2 separate regions of the Homo sapiens genome follow, and region 2 is linked to region 1. Evidence: fine-mapped expression QTL. A gene starts in region 1. The other region holds a variant in brackets. All regions are shown on one strand. Distances are between the middles of the regions. Region 1 holds the start of IFITM5 (interferon induced transmembrane protein 5). Region 2 holds the start of LOC124902603 (a long non-coding RNA gene).

Evidence for each region. PIP is the estimated chance that this variant, and not a neighbour inherited with it, causes the effect.
Region 2: its variant is fine-mapped to the expression of IFITM5 in minor salivary gland (GTEx, PIP above 0.99).

Annotation. Positions count from the first base shown.
Region 1 is chr11:295,902-304,222 of GRCh38, reverse strand. It overlaps IFITM5 (interferon induced transmembrane protein 5), which reads left to right and starts at 4,697. Exons shown (of 2, transcript NM_001025295.3): 1 at 4,697-4,918; 2 at 5,510-6,023. The coding sequence starts at 4,733. The coding sequence ends at 5,722. PGGHG (protein-glucosylgalactosylhydroxylysine glucosidase) reads right to left here. Exons shown (of 14, transcript NM_025092.5): 14 at 8,116-8,321. It also overlaps the pseudogene MRPS24P1. RefSeq lists an enhancer at 5,367-5,526.
Region 2 is chr11:653,488-661,808 of GRCh38, reverse strand. It overlaps DEAF1 (DEAF1 transcription factor), which reads left to right. Exons shown (of 12, transcript NM_021008.4): 11 at 7,758-7,847. It overlaps LOC124902603 (a long non-coding RNA gene), which reads right to left and starts at 6,786. Exons shown (of 2, transcript XR_007062543.1): 1 at 6,242-6,786; 2 at 2,705-4,835. The variant C/T (reference allele first, on the strand shown) is at 4,869.

The sequences.
Region 1 (8,321 bases):
CCAGGGGGACAAGCCGGTGACCTATGAGGACGCACACGCGCCGCACTTCGTCGCCCGCCGTGAGGGCCAGAGGTCGCTCACGCGGGGAACCCTGGTGGGGAGGACCATGCGGCGGAGCGAACGGTGGAGGATGCTTTCCGTCGCAAGTTCATGTGGGGTGCCTTCCCGGGCTGCCTGGCTGACCCGCTGGTTTTACAGTGCTGGGCCAACCGGTTGGAGATCTGTGCCCTGGTCCCGAGGCACTTGCCTGCCCGCAAGTTCTACTTCCTCGTGGGCTACAGTGAAACTTTGCTGTCCCACTTTTACAAATGTCCTCTGCCACTCCACCTCCAAACTGTGCCCTCAAAGGTTGTGTATAAGGACCTGTAGGACGATCCCTTTCTTTTGCATCAAGCTGTAGCCTGCAGAGAAGGGAAACGTGGGAAAGAAGTGGTACGCCGGGGGGAAAGGCGTCCCTCAAGAGGACTGAGGCATGGTCTCTCAGCTGCTATCCAATAAAGACCCTCTATGTTGTCTTGAAAAAAAAAATGCAAGGCACCTCAGTTCTGAGAAATCGTCACCTTCTTGCAAGAATCTTCATGATACTCCCCCGCTTGGTGAAAGAAACCCTGAAAGATGGAACCCCCACCCAAACCCCTTGCAAGTGACTCTCTCGAGTCTCCGCCCACACGGCCCTTTCTTGAGTGTGTACTTTTCACTTCTCTTTTTTTTCTTTCTTTCTTTTTTTTTTGAGAGGGAGCCTCGCTCTGTCGCCCAGACTGGAGTGCAGTGGCGCGATCTCATCTCACTGCAACTTCTGCCTACCCGGTTCAAGTGATTCTCCTGCCTCAGCCTCCCGATTAGCTGGGATCACAGGCACGCACCACCGCGCCCGGCTAATTTTTGCATTTTTAGTAGAGACAGGGTTTCGCCATGTTGGCCAGGCTGATCTCGAACTCCTGACCTCAGGTGATACACCCGCCTCAGCCTCCCAAAGTGCTGGGATTACAGGCGCGAGCCACCGCGCCTGGCCTTCACTTTTCAACAAATCTCCCTACTTTCACTATTTTCGGTCTCGTCCTTGAATTTTCTTCTTGTGCCAAGAGCCTGGACACCCGTGGGGGTCCAGGTCCCACTGGCAATTGGGGACCTCCCCAAGCCCACTGGTATCACTGTGACCTGTGACCACACCCCTTTGAGATGTCTTGCCTTTCCTGGCAGAAGCAATGTACACCTTACTCGTGAGGACTAAACTCTGACTTTTTTATCTTGCCCAAGTTCCTATCAAAGGGGTCTGGGGAATTTACCTACAAATGGTAAATTCTCATCAGATGAGTTTTGGTTTTCGTTTGTTTGTTTTGTTTTTGTATTTTCAGTAGAGACAGGTTTCACCACGTTGGCCAGGCTGGTCTCGAACTCTTGACCTCAGGTGATCTGCCTGCCGCGGCCTCCCAAAGTGCTGGGATTACAGGCATGAGCCACCATGCCCGGCCAACCAGATGAGTTTTATTTAACCCTATATATCGTGACTTACTTTCCAACCTGACTCTGGCATAACATTATGAAACAAGGAAGAAAATCAAAATACCCCAAAAACATGTTTCTTTGCCATATTTTGAAATGGCCCCTGCATAGCTGTTCTTTGTGGGGGAAAATTTGCATCTGTAAAGAATCTCAGTTAACATAGCCAGATCTTTTTCTTCCAGACCCTCCCAATCCTGAAGAGATTAATTAAGATATGAATAGGAAATATTGGTCACCTATTGTCTCTAAGGGCAGCCACTATAAGACTTCAAAAGAACTTTGGTTTCCACAATCTTTATTTTTTATTTATTTATTTTTTTGAGACGGAGTCTCTCGCTTTGTCACCCAGGCTGGAGTGCAATGGCACGATCTGATCTTGGCTCACTGCAACCTCCGCCTCCCGGGTTCAAGCGATTCTCCTGCCTCAGCCTCCTGAGTAGCTGGAATTTCAGGCACCCACCACCACGCCTGGCTAATTTTTGTATTTTTAGTAGAGATGGGGTTTCACCATGTTGGTCAGGGTGGTCACGAACTCCTGACCTCATGATTCACCCGCCTCGGCCTCCCAAAGTGCTGAGACTACAGGCGTGAGCCACCTCGCCTGGCCCTTTTTTTTTTTTTTTTTTTTTTTTTTGAGATGGAGTTTTGCTCTTGTTGCCCAGGCTGGAGTGCAATGGCGCGATCTCGGTTCACCGCAACCTCCGCCTCCTGGGTTCAAGTGATTCTCATGCCTCAGCCTCCTGAGTAGCTGGGATTACAGGCATGCGCCACCACGCCTGGCTAATTTTGTATTTTTAGTACAGACGGGGCTTCTCCATGTTGGTCACGCTGGTCTCGAACTCCTGACCTTGTGATCTGCCCGCCTTGGCCTCCCAAAGTGCTGGGATTACAGGCATGAGCCACCGCACCCGGCCACAATCTTGATCTTAACCTGAACACTCCTTTTCTACCAATCCCAAGTCTTTAGACAAGCTCAACCAATTGTCAACAAGAAAATGTTTAAACTCACCTATAGCCTGGAACACCGCTGCCCCTCCCCCCACCCCCCCCACCCCCAGCTTTGTGTTGTCCCGCCTTTCTGGACCAAACCAATGTATTTCTTAAATGTATTTGATTGATACCTCATGTCTCCCTAAAATGTATAAAACCAAGCTGTGCCCTGAGCCCCTTGGGTATATGTTCTCAGGACCTCCTGAGGGCCGCACCACAGGCCATGGTCACTCATATTTGGCTCAGAATAAATCTCTTCAAATATTTCGCAGAGTTGGACTCTTTTCGTTGACACTTGTATTGATCTATGTCTTTGCCTGCAACTTCTGTCTCCCTACAATGTATAAAACCAAGCTGTAGCCCAGCCACCTTTGGCACGTTTGCTGGAACTCTGGAGGCTGTATCATGAGCCGTGGTCAGTCATATTCGGCGTAGGACAAACCTCTTTAAATACTTTACAGAGTTAGCTTTTTTCATCCTGACCAACATGGTGAAACCCCGTCTCGACTGCAAATACAAAAACTAGCCGGGCGTGGTGGCGGGAGCCCGTAGTGCCAGCGGCTCGGGAGGCTGAGGCAGGAGAATCGCTTGAACCCGGGAGGCGGAGGTTGCCGTGAGCCAAAATCACGCCACTGCACTCCAGCCTGGGCGACAGAGTGAGACTCTGTCTCACAAAAAAAAAAAAAAAAACAAAAACAAAAGAAAAAAAGTCACCCCTCTGCTCACTGAGGTGAATGCATATATCTGGTTGCCTCCTTTGGAGAAGCAAGTCAGAAACTCAAAAGAATGCAACCTTTGTCTCTTATCTACCTGCGACCGGGAAGCGCCTCCCCACTTCGAGTCTTCCCTGCCTTGCTTTGCATTGTCCTGCCTTTCCAGACTGAACCAATGTTCATCTTACATATGTTGACTGATGTCTCCTGTGTCCCTAGAATGTATAAAACCAAACTGTGCTCCGACCACCTTGGGTACAGATCCTCAGGAGCTCCAGAGGCTGTCACAGGCACATCCTCAATCTTGGCAAAATAATCTAAATTAACCGAGACCTGTCTCAGATATTTGGGGTTCACAGGCTCAAGCACAGCAGCAAGGAACCCCCCACCCAACCATCCCCTGCAGGTGGCGAGTGTGCGTCCTGGAGGAGGGAGGGCAGCTTGGTCCTGGGCACTCAGGAGTGTGGCCGACTGGGAGACGGGGAAGCTGAGCCTTCTGGCCCGGTGCAGTTGCCACCACTGCTCCGGGGAAGGCTTGGCAGAGGAGGTTGGGAGGGAGGATCCAGGGTCTATTGTTGGCACGTGGGTGGAGGTCCACAGAGCAGGAGTTGCGTGTGTGTGTCCAGAGCTGGGGACCAAGCCAATGTCTTTGGGGGGAAGTCTGGGCTGAAGACATAAATGTGAGTCGTCAGCACACACAGGCATCTACAGCCAGAGACAAGACTGGGGCGGACCTTGAGCCCTAAACAGGACCACTCACCACAGACATTCTGGGATCAGGGAGGGCAGCCGAGGAGGCTGAGGGGAGTGTCCACCACAGGAGCCCACAGGCTCCCTGCATCCCGACACCAGTGTTAACAGCTGTTGCTGGTCCCTGGGGGTTCCCCTGCCGGCTCCTAACAGGCTGCACCCCCTGGCTTTCCCCCCATGTGGTTCTCTCCTTCTCTCTCGCGCCCTCCTCCGACAGCCGCCCTCCCTGTCCCCCTTGCAGGGATGCCTGCGCTCCTAGGGCCTGGCGCTGGTGCTCTGAGAGTGTTAGGGGCAGAGTTGAGTTCTGGGAATGAAGGGGCTGCAGTTTCAGCAGCTCTGGTTCTGAGGAGGGGGCTCCTGTACATCCCTGAATTATGAGGCCCATGGCCCTGAGGCGACACCTCCAACTCTTCTTGGCCTGGACGGAGGGGGCTCTGGCCAGTGGTCTGCCCACTGCCCACTTGGCCAGCAGCCTTTGATGGGGGTGGGGGGATGGGTGGGGGTCTCTGCCACTGCCCGGCCGTAGCCTTCCAAGCGGGGGGCTCCCAGATGGGATGTCTGTCAGGAGGGACCCTGCTGGGTGGTCCAAGGCAGCCTCGGACAGGGGCTCCCTGGGGTGGGGGCTAAGGGGCGGGCCGCACCCTCGGCCCGCAGGCTGTAATTTGTGTTATATATAGCGTTGAGGGGCTGGGCCGGGAGGGCGACAGGGCTATAAGTGAGCGGGTGCCCACCCTCCCAGCACCAGTCTGAGTGTGGAAGAGACGGCGCTGGAACCCATGGACACGGCGTATCCCCGCGAGGACACCCGGGCCCCCACGCCCAGCAAGGCCGGTGCCCACACAGCCCTCACACTGGGGGCCCCGCACCCCCCGCCTCGAGACCACTTGATCTGGTCGGTGTTCAGCACCCTCTACCTGAATCTGTGTTGCCTCGGCTTCCTGGCGCTGGCCTACTCCATCAAGGTGGGCAGGGGCCCTACCGAGGTTGCGGGGGAGGCTCCACTACTCCATCAAGGTGGGGGGAAGGGGGAGGGATGGGGAGCTCCGTGGGGGGTCCTTGCCGTGCTGGGGGCCGCGGGGGGCTCTGCTTGTCCGTGAGGGGCTCTGTGGGCACAGCTATCAGTATGGCCGGGAAAGAGCTCCTCACGAAGGCAAGGCCGGGGGGCCTCTTCTTAACGGGGTCTGGCCCATCCAAGAGCACAGAGGCCATTGGGAGGCACCCACAGAGGTCTCTGCAATCAAGAGGGGGTTCACATGCTGTGGGCTTCTGGAACAGAGGTCCCTTTGACTTCAGCTCCTGGCTGGCAGGGTGGGGGGTGTCTCAGCACCCTGGGGGACCCTCACCCATAGAGAGCTCTGATAGGCTGACACTGGCCTGGGATGGCCCCCGGGTCCATAGCTGGGGCCCCAAGGAGTATCTCCTCAGGCCACACCCCTCCATCCAGATTTTGGGTGCAGTAGGGGCCTTCCAGGTGCCCAGGGTGTGGGTGGGGAAGGGCCCCCAGGCCCCGAGGACACATAGAGATCTGGCCCTGTGGTCTGGTCTCTCTGCAGGCCCGAGATCAGAAGGTGGTTGGTGACCTGGAAGCGGCCCGGCGTTTTGGCTCCAAAGCCAAGTGCTACAACATCCTGGCCGCGATGTGGACGCTGGTGCCGCCACTGCTGCTCCTGGGGCTGGTGGTGACTGGTGCCCTGCACCTGGCCCGGCTGGCCAAGGACTCTGCCGCCTTCTTCAGCACCAAGTTTGATGACGCGGACTATGACTGACAGGCTGGGTCCTGATCTGGGGCACTAGCCCCAGGACACTGACCCCAGGCTGCTGCCCCTGGGGCCCAATACTGACTCCCCGGAGCCTGGCCCTCCTTCTGTGGGGCCTCCATCCCTGCCCCATCCTGATCCTGGGGCCCTCCAGCCCCAACATGGGCACCTAAGGCTGAACCAGTCAGACCCCGGGGTCTTCACCCTAACCCGAGAGTTCCCGGGCCCTAACTCTGCCCCCGATCCTGCCCCTCCCTCCTCACACTCCAGGCCCCTCGGTTCCACGATTAAAAGTGCCTGGTTCCAGAAAGTGCCTCCTGGCCTCTTTCCTGCCTAGCGTGGGGGAAGGAGCTGCCCTAGGGACCACCAAAGCCAAATGCCACAGGGCCAGCCCCCAGAGTCAGTGGCGGGAGCGCCCCCCGCAGCTCAGCAGCCCTGCTTGGCCCCAACTGTCCCCTTCTCTCAGCCACTGGGCGGCCTGTGGCTTACGGGGCGGAGGCCCAGAGTATTTTAGACTAAGTTTGAGAGCCCAGGCCTTTGATCTCTGCTGCTCTGTGGTTTAGCGGCCTGTGCTCCAGAACATCATGGGTGCGTCCCAACCCCACGTGTGTCCACCCCATCTCTCTGTGCGCATGTGTGTGCGTGCTCGAAGTCTGCGTGAGAGTCCGTGCCTGTGGGTGGGCTCCATCTGCGGTCTGGTGTACACCTCCTTCCTTTCTGGGTCATTCTGTCTGTCCCCATGACCCTGCGTGCCCCCTTAATTCTGAGAAATCCCAGTCCCCACGGTGGTTTCCCTCCCTCCTGGGCCAGTGAGGGTGGCTAGAAAGGCAGGGCGGGGACGATCCCATGGGTGGGGCTGGACACACACACAAACACATGTGGGAAGGATAGCAGCTTCCCTTTCTCTCTCACACACACACACACACACACACCCCAACCAAACTATATCCAGAAAGGCAGAAAATGGGCATGTGTGCAACATTCTCTGAGTCCCCTGGTGCTGGGTGCATGTTCTCATATTATTTTACCTGCGTTGTGTACCACAGCCTCCCCACACACCCACCACAGCCTGGTGATGGGAGAGGGCCAGGGACATGCACACTGCGAGGCTGCGGGGAGGCCCTGGGGCCTCGCTGAGGCCAGCCATTGCCGGGAGGTGGTGGTTAACAGCACAGTGGCCCAGGGTTCTGAGCACCCCACTCCGGGGCCCTTCCCTTCCCGGGGAATCGCCGTTGCCTGCCTGCTCTTCCTGGGCTGTGGGCAGGAATCTTTTGGTCTACTCGGAGCCCTGGGCAGCATCCCCTATCTGTGATATGCCTGCAGCCAACGGCTGGCGTGGCAGGGACTCTGAGGGCAGGCCCAGCCAGCCCTGGAGGCAGAGGTGTGTGGAGGCCATGCTGGGCGCTGGAGACAGACAGGACCAGTCCCACAGTGGACCAAGGACAAGGGCAGTGTGCCCACCTGTGCTTGCCTTGGGATAGAGACAGTGTGCCAGCCCTGAGCCTCAGGATTGGCCTGAGAAGGGATCAAACTGTGTCGGGTGCAGAGACTGGGAGGGGGTCAGCCCATGTGTGGCTGGATACGTGTCCCCAGAAAAGAGACGGTCTGCCAGTCCCCAGGCTTACTGAGGGGCAGGGACGACCTGGTCCATTCCCGGTGCTGTGGGTGAGCCACCTTGGGGGAACGGTCACCAGCACCTCCCTGCCTCAGGCTCAGGCTCCTGGGCAGGCGATGAACCCTGACCAGCCCTGCCGGCACACGTGCACTGACCATCACGACCCCCCCAAAAGGGTCACCTCAGGATGTGCAGAGGTGGCCCCACACGCGTGTGGCACGCACGTGCAGCAGGCTTCAGGCCATATCTCTCCTGCGGGCGCAAGGCTACCGACCACCCTGACTTGACACCTGTGCCCACATCACCCTGGCTCTGGGGCTGCAAAGATGAACTCCTGCTGGGGCAACCGTGGCCGGGAGAAGGGGCCCATGCTTCCCTCGGGGAACCTGCCTCTGCCTCTCGCTGCCCAGCGACAGCGTCGGATGGGACCCAGCTCTGCAGCTGAGGGAGCCTGTAGGGGCCGGGGGAGCCACGTGGAGGCGTCAGGCTGCATTCTGCGAGACTCCTGCCCGGCACTGGACTGCATGCCGGGCTGCCCCCTGACCCACAGCCCCTCTCCACTGTGGCCACGAGCCCCTGTGAGACTCCTGCCCGGCACTGGACTGCACGCCAGGCTGCCCCTGACCCACAGCCCCTCTCCACTGTGGTCATGAGCCCCTGCAAGACTCCTGCCCGGCACTGGACTGCACACTGGGCTGCCCTGACCCACGGCCCCTCTCCACTGTGGCCATGAGCCCCAGCAAGCAAGCTGCCATAAAACACGCAGTGTCCACAGGTCTCAGCCTTCTGCACCCTACACGGTTCCTGTCAGGGGAGCCGACCTCTGAGTGCTGGTCTCGGCCGCAGGTGTGCTGCAGCACATGCCTCCCCCACACGCTGCTTCTGGCAGCCGCTGAGGGTGGCAGAGACAGCAGACAGGCCTTGGGAGACCCAGGCATCCTGGCCCCCAGACCCTAGAGCTGCCTGAAAGATGTTTCCACAGGCGTCCTTGCC
Region 2 (8,321 bases), 360 kb before region 1:
TTGCTCATGAGCACCCTGACAGAGCACCCATGCCTCCAGCAGTGGGAGGGCAGGCGTGACGCTGCCGATTCCACATTGTATCTGGAATGTTTGTTTTGGAGATGGAGTTTCGCTCTTGTTGCCCAGGCTGGAGTGCAGTGGTGCGATCTCAGCTCACTGCAACCTGTGCCTCCCAGGTTCAAGCGATTCTTCTGCCTCAGCCTCCCGAGTAGCTGGGGTTACAGGCGCTTGCCACCACGCCTGGCTAATTTTTGTATTTTTAGTAGACGCGGTATTTCACCATGTTGGCCAGGCTGGTGTTGAACCCCTGACCTCCGGTGATCCACCTGTCTCGGCCTTCCAAAGTGCTGGGATTACAGGCATGAGCCTCGGTGCCTGGCCTTTTATCTGGAATTTAAAAAAAAAAAAAATCAAATGTAGCCCAGCTGAAGCTATTAAGGGGATTGTTGCCAGCTTTAACCATGGGAAATCTGCATTCGTGTGTATGTAATGAGCTCTGCAGAGATTCAACAAGGCAGAAAAGCAGATGCCCTTGGCTGTCAAGGGCACAGTGTCCAGTGGAAGCCAGCCGAGTGGCTGCAGGGTCTTGGACTCACTGCCCTGGCCCCGGCTTGTTGTTGGCCATGCTGCCCTGAGCGCAAACCCCATTCCTCTAGCCTGTCCCCGTTTCTAGTAGCTCGCTCTCAGGCTTTCTCCAGTCTCCCTAACTTCCTTTTAAAGTGTTAAATATAGTACAGCACAGAAGGGTATGAAAGGGAGAAGAATACGTAAGTTGGACAGTAACAATGTCCTTGACTCCTAGGAAGCTCAGAAATAGGTCTGTGCTGTGCCTGGATGGTGCCTCCGTGCCTGGGGATCTGGAAGGGTGGAGACAGACCCCAGAGCAGCCGCTTCCCTGCGGGGGCCTCTCCCAACACCGTAAGGCCGCGGGTGCCTCAAGCAGCGCCGAGAGGGGCTTGTGTTTCAGTGACATTTCCTTGAAGTCCAGGTATGGGGTTTCTGTAAATGAAGGCTTTTGCCTGCCTTGTTCTCCAGTGTCAGCCTAACACTCACGTGAGCCAAATAGGCCCGGCCAGACCCAAGACAGCTCAGTCACCTGTTCCGCATCAAACATCAGATTCCAGAGCCGGACTGGACCAACGTCCTGCCGTGGCCCAGTGAGCGAGGGTTGCTGGCGTCTTTGGGATACTCGGGAGCAGCCCGCCATCCCCGTGTCCCCAGGGAACTCTTCAGAGCACCCCCCAGCAGCGTGGAAGCCCCCGGAAATGCAGGCTTGGAGTCCCCCGAGGGAGCCAGGGGTGTTGTGGTGGGAGGGGCGGCCAGGTGCCCGGGACGGGGTGAGGCGGCGCCGGCGGGGCAGCCTGGGAAAAGCACAGAGGTGGCTTTGCAGTCCCACTTCAGGGGGACCCTGCCTGACCTGGGATGAGGTGTGTGGGCTTTCTGGGGCAGGGGCGGGGACAGGTTGTAAATCTGAATTTGTCTGATGCTTCCTCAGAGATCTGTATCATGGTCATTTCATAGAAACGGCAAACTCTGTCCCAGCTCAAAAAGATGCTATTAGACTAATCCTTTGATCTCTTTACGTGTGCGGCTCAGCTTTCAGATAAACCTGCTTGATGTTTTGAGGGTTTTCTCTTATTTCCGTTGCTTCCTCGAGGGAGAGTAATCCAGTCTAATTTGCATTTCTCTTACTTTTAAGCTGAGCTGCTGCGCCCTCACGGGACACAGTCATGGGGAGCCCTCTGCCCCATGGTGGGCATTGGTGAAGCCACAGTGGTCCCGGGGGCAGACCTCAAGGGTGCACAGCAGCAGCCCCTTGGGCCCTGCCTGCCCAAGCCCCACCTGGCCCCACCTGCCCTGTGTTGGGGACTTTGTATTTCAGCCTCCATGCAGGGTGACGCTGGGACTCCCCAGCTTCCGGTTCACGGCTTCAGGGTCCAGCAGGTTCTCCTGAAGCCCCATCTACCGCTGGCTTCCTGCTCACTCTCCCCTCTCCCGCTCTGTCTCTCCAGAGGAGGCCGGGCCTGTGGAATTAGGCGGCTGCTTCACCTGAACTCACTGCAGTGCCGGGAAAGGAGCCTCTGGAACTAGACCCAGGAGCGGATCTGCAAAGGCTACTCAGGGTTCTCCCAGCGGCTCTGAACCCCGAGGCCAACTCGCCCTCCAATCACCTGGCCCCTGAAGCAGGCGGAGGCCCCTGTGCACAGTGGGCCTGTGGCCCCATTTGGTTCAGGAGTGATGGTGACACGGAGTTGGCTCCATCGAGGCTCCTGGCAGCATTACATCCTCTAAGAATAAGTCATAAAGAAAGCACTCCTTGTAAGATACACGATCCACCAGGCTGCCTCCAACCACAGCCTCATCTCCATCCGGGGTGTGTCTAGGTTTTCTTTTTTATTATTATTTTTTATCATTTGAGACATGTTCTCCCTCTGTCACCCAGGCTGGAGTGCACTGGTGTGACCTCAGCTCACTGCAACCTCCACCTCCCAGGCTCAAGCAATCCTCCCACCTCAGCCTCTCTGGTAGCTAAGAGGTGCATGCCACCATGCCCAGCTAATTTTTTTTTTTTTTTTTTTTGTAGAGACAGGGTTTTGCCATGTCACCTAGGCTGGCCTTAAACTCTTGGGCTCAAGCGATGCTCCCGCCTCGGCCTCCCAAAGTGCTGGGATTACAGGTGTAGCCACCATGCCTGGCCAGTATCTAGGTTTTCAAGTTAGACTTAGTTTTATTTGCAGAAAGAATAATGAATACATTATTAACTTATTCTTTGATAGTTAGAAATTAATAGGCATTTTATATGTGATCTTATGGTCTTACTCTTGGTTGGCTGTTTCTGAAGGAGTGGCTTTGTTATCTGTAATTTGTCTAATTTAAAAATCAATTATAATGAAACCAGCATATGTGATTCACAAGGCTTTTTTCCACCTGGACCAGAGTACACCAGCTATTGCATTGCCAAAAGTAGGTGTGTTCCTGTTGTGTGATGTGCAGATGGGGGGCCCCTGCAGCAGGGAAGGCAGGCCAGGAAACCCCTTCGCAGTCTCTGCTGAGGGGCTGGACCCGCTGCTTGGGCGGGACTCCCCGCAGGGTGCTCTGCTGCAGTCTCCTCCTCTGCCCGCCTGCGGCCCAGAGAACTCTGAATGCTAATGGCAATGCCAGCTGCTTGGCAGCATGAGCTTCTTGGGGCGCCTGGGCAGGCCTGGGCACTTCTGCCCTTTGTGCCATCCGCAGTCCTGTGATTTCCTGACAGTTTCCTGAAAGCGCAGAATGGGACTTGTCGATGTCCTTGGCTGCGGAAACGCGGTGTCTTGTCCTAACCTTCTGCAACGCACACACACCTCTTCCGCAGTAATGAATGGTTTTTTGTTTTTGTTTTTGAGACAGAGTCTAGCTCTGTCACCCAGGCTGGAGTGCAGTGGCGCGTTCTCGGCTCACTGCAAGCTCCACCTCCTGGGTTCATGCCATTCTCCTGCCTTAGCCTCGCGAGTAGCCGGGAGTACAGGCACCCGCCAACACGCCTGGCTAATTTTTTTGTATTTTTAGTAGAGACAGGGTTTCACCGTGTTAGCCAGGATGGTCTCGATCTCCTGACCTCGTGATCCGCCTGCCTCAGCCTCCCAAAGTGCTGGGATTACAGGCGTGAGCCACCGTGCCCGGCTAATGAATGGTTATTTTAAAAAATAAACGTATTTCGGGATAATTTTAGGTTTACAGAAAAGTTGCAAAGTGAGCGCAGAGGGTCCCTTCTGCCACTCCGCAGCCTCCCCTCTGTAACTTCAAAGCCCACAGGGCATGGCTGTTGTAGCTGAGAAACCGTCGCTGGGTGTCCCTGTGAACTCCGGACTTTGAATTTCACTATCAATGTCCTGTTTCTGCTCTAGGACCTTGTCCCCGCTGCCACCTGTGGGAGACAGCCTCCCGTGCACCATTTGCCCAGCACCCTCAGGCCTGTGACGGTCTCTCAGTCTTTCCTTGTCTTCCATGCCCTGCAGTTCTGAGAGGGCCTGGCCAGGCAGTTTGTCCAGGTGCCCCGATCCAGGCTTGTCTTGTGCTTTCTCGTGGGGGTGGACGACAGGTTTCAGGGAGGGGTGCTGCCGCCTGTCTCACCCCACTGTGGCGTCCCTGACATCCAAGTGACATTACAGACAGCTCTGACCTTCCTCACCAGAGTCAGGTGTCTGTAGGTGTCTCCTTGGTGACAGGACTGCTTCTCCCTTTGCACATTTAGTCAGGCAGCAAGTCCACGGCCGTGGGGGGGCTTCTCCTAGACGGGAGGATCTGGAATAGCTTGGACTTGTATTTATTTATTTGATCATTTGTTTGTATCCGGATGGGCTCATTTTATATGTGTTTTAAACTCTGAGCTAGAAGGCAACACTACTTTCTTGTGAAGCACACCATCTGTCCTTGGCCCTAGGGAGCTCCTGCCGTCGGCTCCTGGGTCCCCTGATGCACCCCTTTCAACAGACTTTTCATTTTGGGGTACGTCCTGACTTCCTGGCACTGCAGGGTGCTCCAGCCTCCTCTTGCATTCCCTGCCCTGGCCCGGGAATCAGCCCCTTCTCCAAGGAGCCCCGGGTCCTTTTATTGGCAAGTCTTAAGAGAGTGAGGCCTGGGTGCCAGGCAGGGAGCCCCAGGTCCTTTTATTGGGAAGTCTTAGAGAGTGAGGCCTGGGTGCCAGGTGGGTGCCAGGTGGGTCCGGTGCTGCTGGGATGTTGTCACGTGGAGGCCCTCAGCTGCAGAGCAGGGACGAGGGTGTCACCTGTTCAGCTGCAGAGCAGGGATGAGGGTGTCACCTGTGTGTATGAACATCTCCGCAGCCACTTCTGTATCTGTGAAGAGAACATGAGTTCATGCTACTGCCT[C/T]TGACTCTAATTCAGACCCCAAAGCTCCTTCTAACCTTCCTAGAACGTTATTTTTCAGTTTAAAAAAAAAAAAAAGTTTTGCAAAGGGCATACCGCGAAAGGCCCAAGTGGTTGAAAGTCCCAGCTGAGGCTGAAGAGGCGCCTGCGAGGCAACAGGACAGGCTTCCCGTTCAGTTCAGGGGTGCTGTCCTCCAGGAACTATGCTGGGGGGCAAGTACAGGACGTCCTGGTGTGTGGTGCACAGGGACTGCTGGACACGGAGACCCGTGCCCTTCTCAGCGTGGGGGCCGCTCCCCGGGACAGTGACCACGCTCCCGCCAGCCTCCCACCCCACCTGACCTCTGTCTGTGAGGGGCTGGACCAGGGTCCTGCCTGGCCCGGCCATCCACAGAGCAACCCAGAATGTTAATAAAGCCTGCAGAAGCTGTGTTCTCCTTCGAGAAGCTTCTCTGTGGTTACAGACTTTTTAAGAAATATTTTGTCGGCTGGGCTTGGTGGCTCATGCCTGTAATCCCAGCATTTTGGGAGGCCAAGGCAGGCGGATCACCTGAGGTCAGGAGTTTCCGAGACCAGCCTGGCCAACAGGGCAAAACCCCGTCTCTACTAAAAATACAAAAATTAGCCAGGCATGGTGGCAAGCGCCTATAATCCCAGCTACTTGAGAGGCTAAGGTGGAAGCATTGCTCGAATCTGGAAGGTGGTGGTTGCAATGAGCTGAGATCGTGCCACTGCACTCCAGGCTGGGCGACAGAGCGAGACTCCATCTCAAAAAAAAAAAAAAAGTTTGTCATTTAAAGTAGAGGCACAGGCCAGGCGCGGTGGCTCATGCCTGTAATCCCAGCACTTTGGGGGGCCGACTCAGGTGGATCATTTGAGGTCAGGAGCTCGAGACCAGCCTGACCAATATGGTGAAACCCCATCTGTACTAAAAATACAAAAAAATTAGCCAGGCGTGGTGGTCCGTGCCTGTAGTCCCAGCTGTGGGGAGGCTGAGGCACAAGAATCACTTAAACCCAGGAGGTGGAGGTTGCAGTGAGCCGAGATTGCGCCACTACACTCCAGCCTGGGCGACAGAGTGAGACTCCATCTCAAAAAAATAATAATAATAATAAATAAATAAAGTAGAGGCAGGGGGCAACCTAAATTAGCACCAAAATTCCTCCTAATGCTCCTGTTTTCTGAAGTGAGTGACTGAATGTCGGAGCTCTGAATGTCTTACAACTGGAAAAATGTTAAAGATCACGTTTGCGAAGGAGGGAGGCAAGCATCAGAACAGAACCTCGGAGCAGGTCTGCACGCGTGCAGGGGCCGTGGGGCCGCGCTGGAGTCGTTTCCTGTGCTGCTCTGTGCTGCTCACAGACGCTGCCACTCACCCACTGGCCACGGCCCCTCCCGCAGCTGCGGATGATCTGGGCGCATAGCGGGCGTGCAGGTCGCGGCGCCAAGGCCTCTCCTAGGCCCAGTGGTCTTCTCCGTCTCAGAGAGCATTGACGGCGGAGCTCACAACTGTCAAGCACCTTAGTCATGCCGCAAACATTAATCATTGACAGCATGTTGACCTATGCGCTGATTAAAAAGAAAAGCTCCAATAATGTAATTCCAGGAGAAAGTACACAAACCTCTGGTGGCATCTTTTCAATCCACCACAGAAACCAGCTCAGGTGGGGCCGTGGGGGTGTTGGCTGGGGCACCGCCGCAGCAGTTTGGGACACATGCCTGCCACGGTGCGCCCAGGCTGATGCCCACAGCCCTGCTCAGGAGTGTTGGGAGCGGTGGACTCCTGAGTTTGATTTTCTGTGCTGGCCTGGCTGGAGTGAAGCTCCTTGGAGTTTGGAGAAAGATTTCCATGCTGATTTCCCTTTGTTTTTGTTTGTTTGTTTGTTTGTTTGTTTTGGAGACAGTCTTGCTCTGTCGCCCAGGCTGGAGTGCAATGGTACAATCTCGGGGTTTCACCGTGTTAGCCAGGATGGTCTCGATCTCCTAACTTCGTGATCCGCCCACCTCAGCCTCCTAAAGTGCTGGGATTACAGGCATGAGCCACTGCATCCGGCCCTGATTTCCCTTTTTTTTTGAGATGGGAGTCTCGCTCTGTCACCCAGGCTGGAGTGCAGTAGTGCAATCTCGGTTCACTGCAACCTCCGCCTCCTGGGTGCAAGCTATTCTCCCACCTCAGCCTCCCAGGTAGCTGGGATTACAGGTGGCCACCACCACACCCAGCTAATTTTTGTATTTTTAGTAGAGACTGGGTTTCGCAACGTTGCCTGTGCTGAACTCCTGACCTCAGGTGATCCACCCGCCTCGGCTGCCCAAAGTCCTGGGATTACAGGTATGAGCCGCTGCTCCCGGCCCATACTGGTCTTCCAGTGAATGAATGTAGGGGGCAAACTGCACTGAGGCCAGGAAAGAGCTGATTCTGGAGGTGACAAGAACGTTCTGAGCAGCACTGGGGCAGAGGCGCAGTCAAGAGTCCAATGGGAGCTGGGCGCAGTGGCTCACGCCTGTAATCCCAGCACTTTGGGAGGCCGAGGCAGGTGGATCACGAGGTCAGAGGTTCAAGACCAGCCTGACCAACATGGTGAAACCCTGTCTCTACTAAAAATACACAAATTAGCTGGGCGTGGTGTCAGGCACCTATCATCCCAGACTCAGGAGGCTGAGACAGGAGAATTGCTTGAACCCAGGAGGCGGAAGTTGCAGTGAGCTGAGATCGCACCACGGCACTCCAGCCTGGGCGACAGAGTGAGACTCCATCTCAAAAAAAAAAAAAAAAAAAAAGGGGGTCCAATGGGGGGAACTTGGGGCCTCCTGCCTGCACCTGCCTCTGTCCCCGGTGTCTCAGGGGCTCTCCACGGCCACGTCACTGACTGGCCTGTTGTGTCCTTCTTGCAGCAGTCCTGCGTTAACTGCGGCCGGGAGGCTATGAGCGAGTGCACCGGCTGCCACAAGGTCAACTACTGCTCCACCTTCTGCCAACGCAAGGTAGGTCTCACCTACACCAGGCTCAGTGCCCCCGCCTCCTCCCTCGCTACGAAGACCCCTGGGTGGCCCTCCCTCCCCTTGTGCTCCTGGTGCCACACCTGACTCCCCTCCCTGTCCCTCCCTCTGGGAATCCGGGGCTCCTGCCTGGCTCCGTGAAGACCCTGCAGAAGGCTCACATGTGACATGGCCAGGTAGTGCTCTCATGTGAGGCCCCACAGTTGGTGGCCGGAAACCCTGAGGGCTGCTGGTCAGTGCTTCCCAGCCCTCCACACCCCTGCACAGCCACGCAAGAGAGACTGTCCACAGTTCCATTATTGAGCCCTCCACACCCCTGCAGAGCCACGTGAGAGAGACTGTCCACAGTTCCTCTATTATTCAGCCCTCCACACCCCTGCAGAGCCACGCAAGAGAGACTGTCCACAGTTCCTCTATTATTGAGCCCTCCACACCCCTGCAGAGCCACGCGAGAGAGAC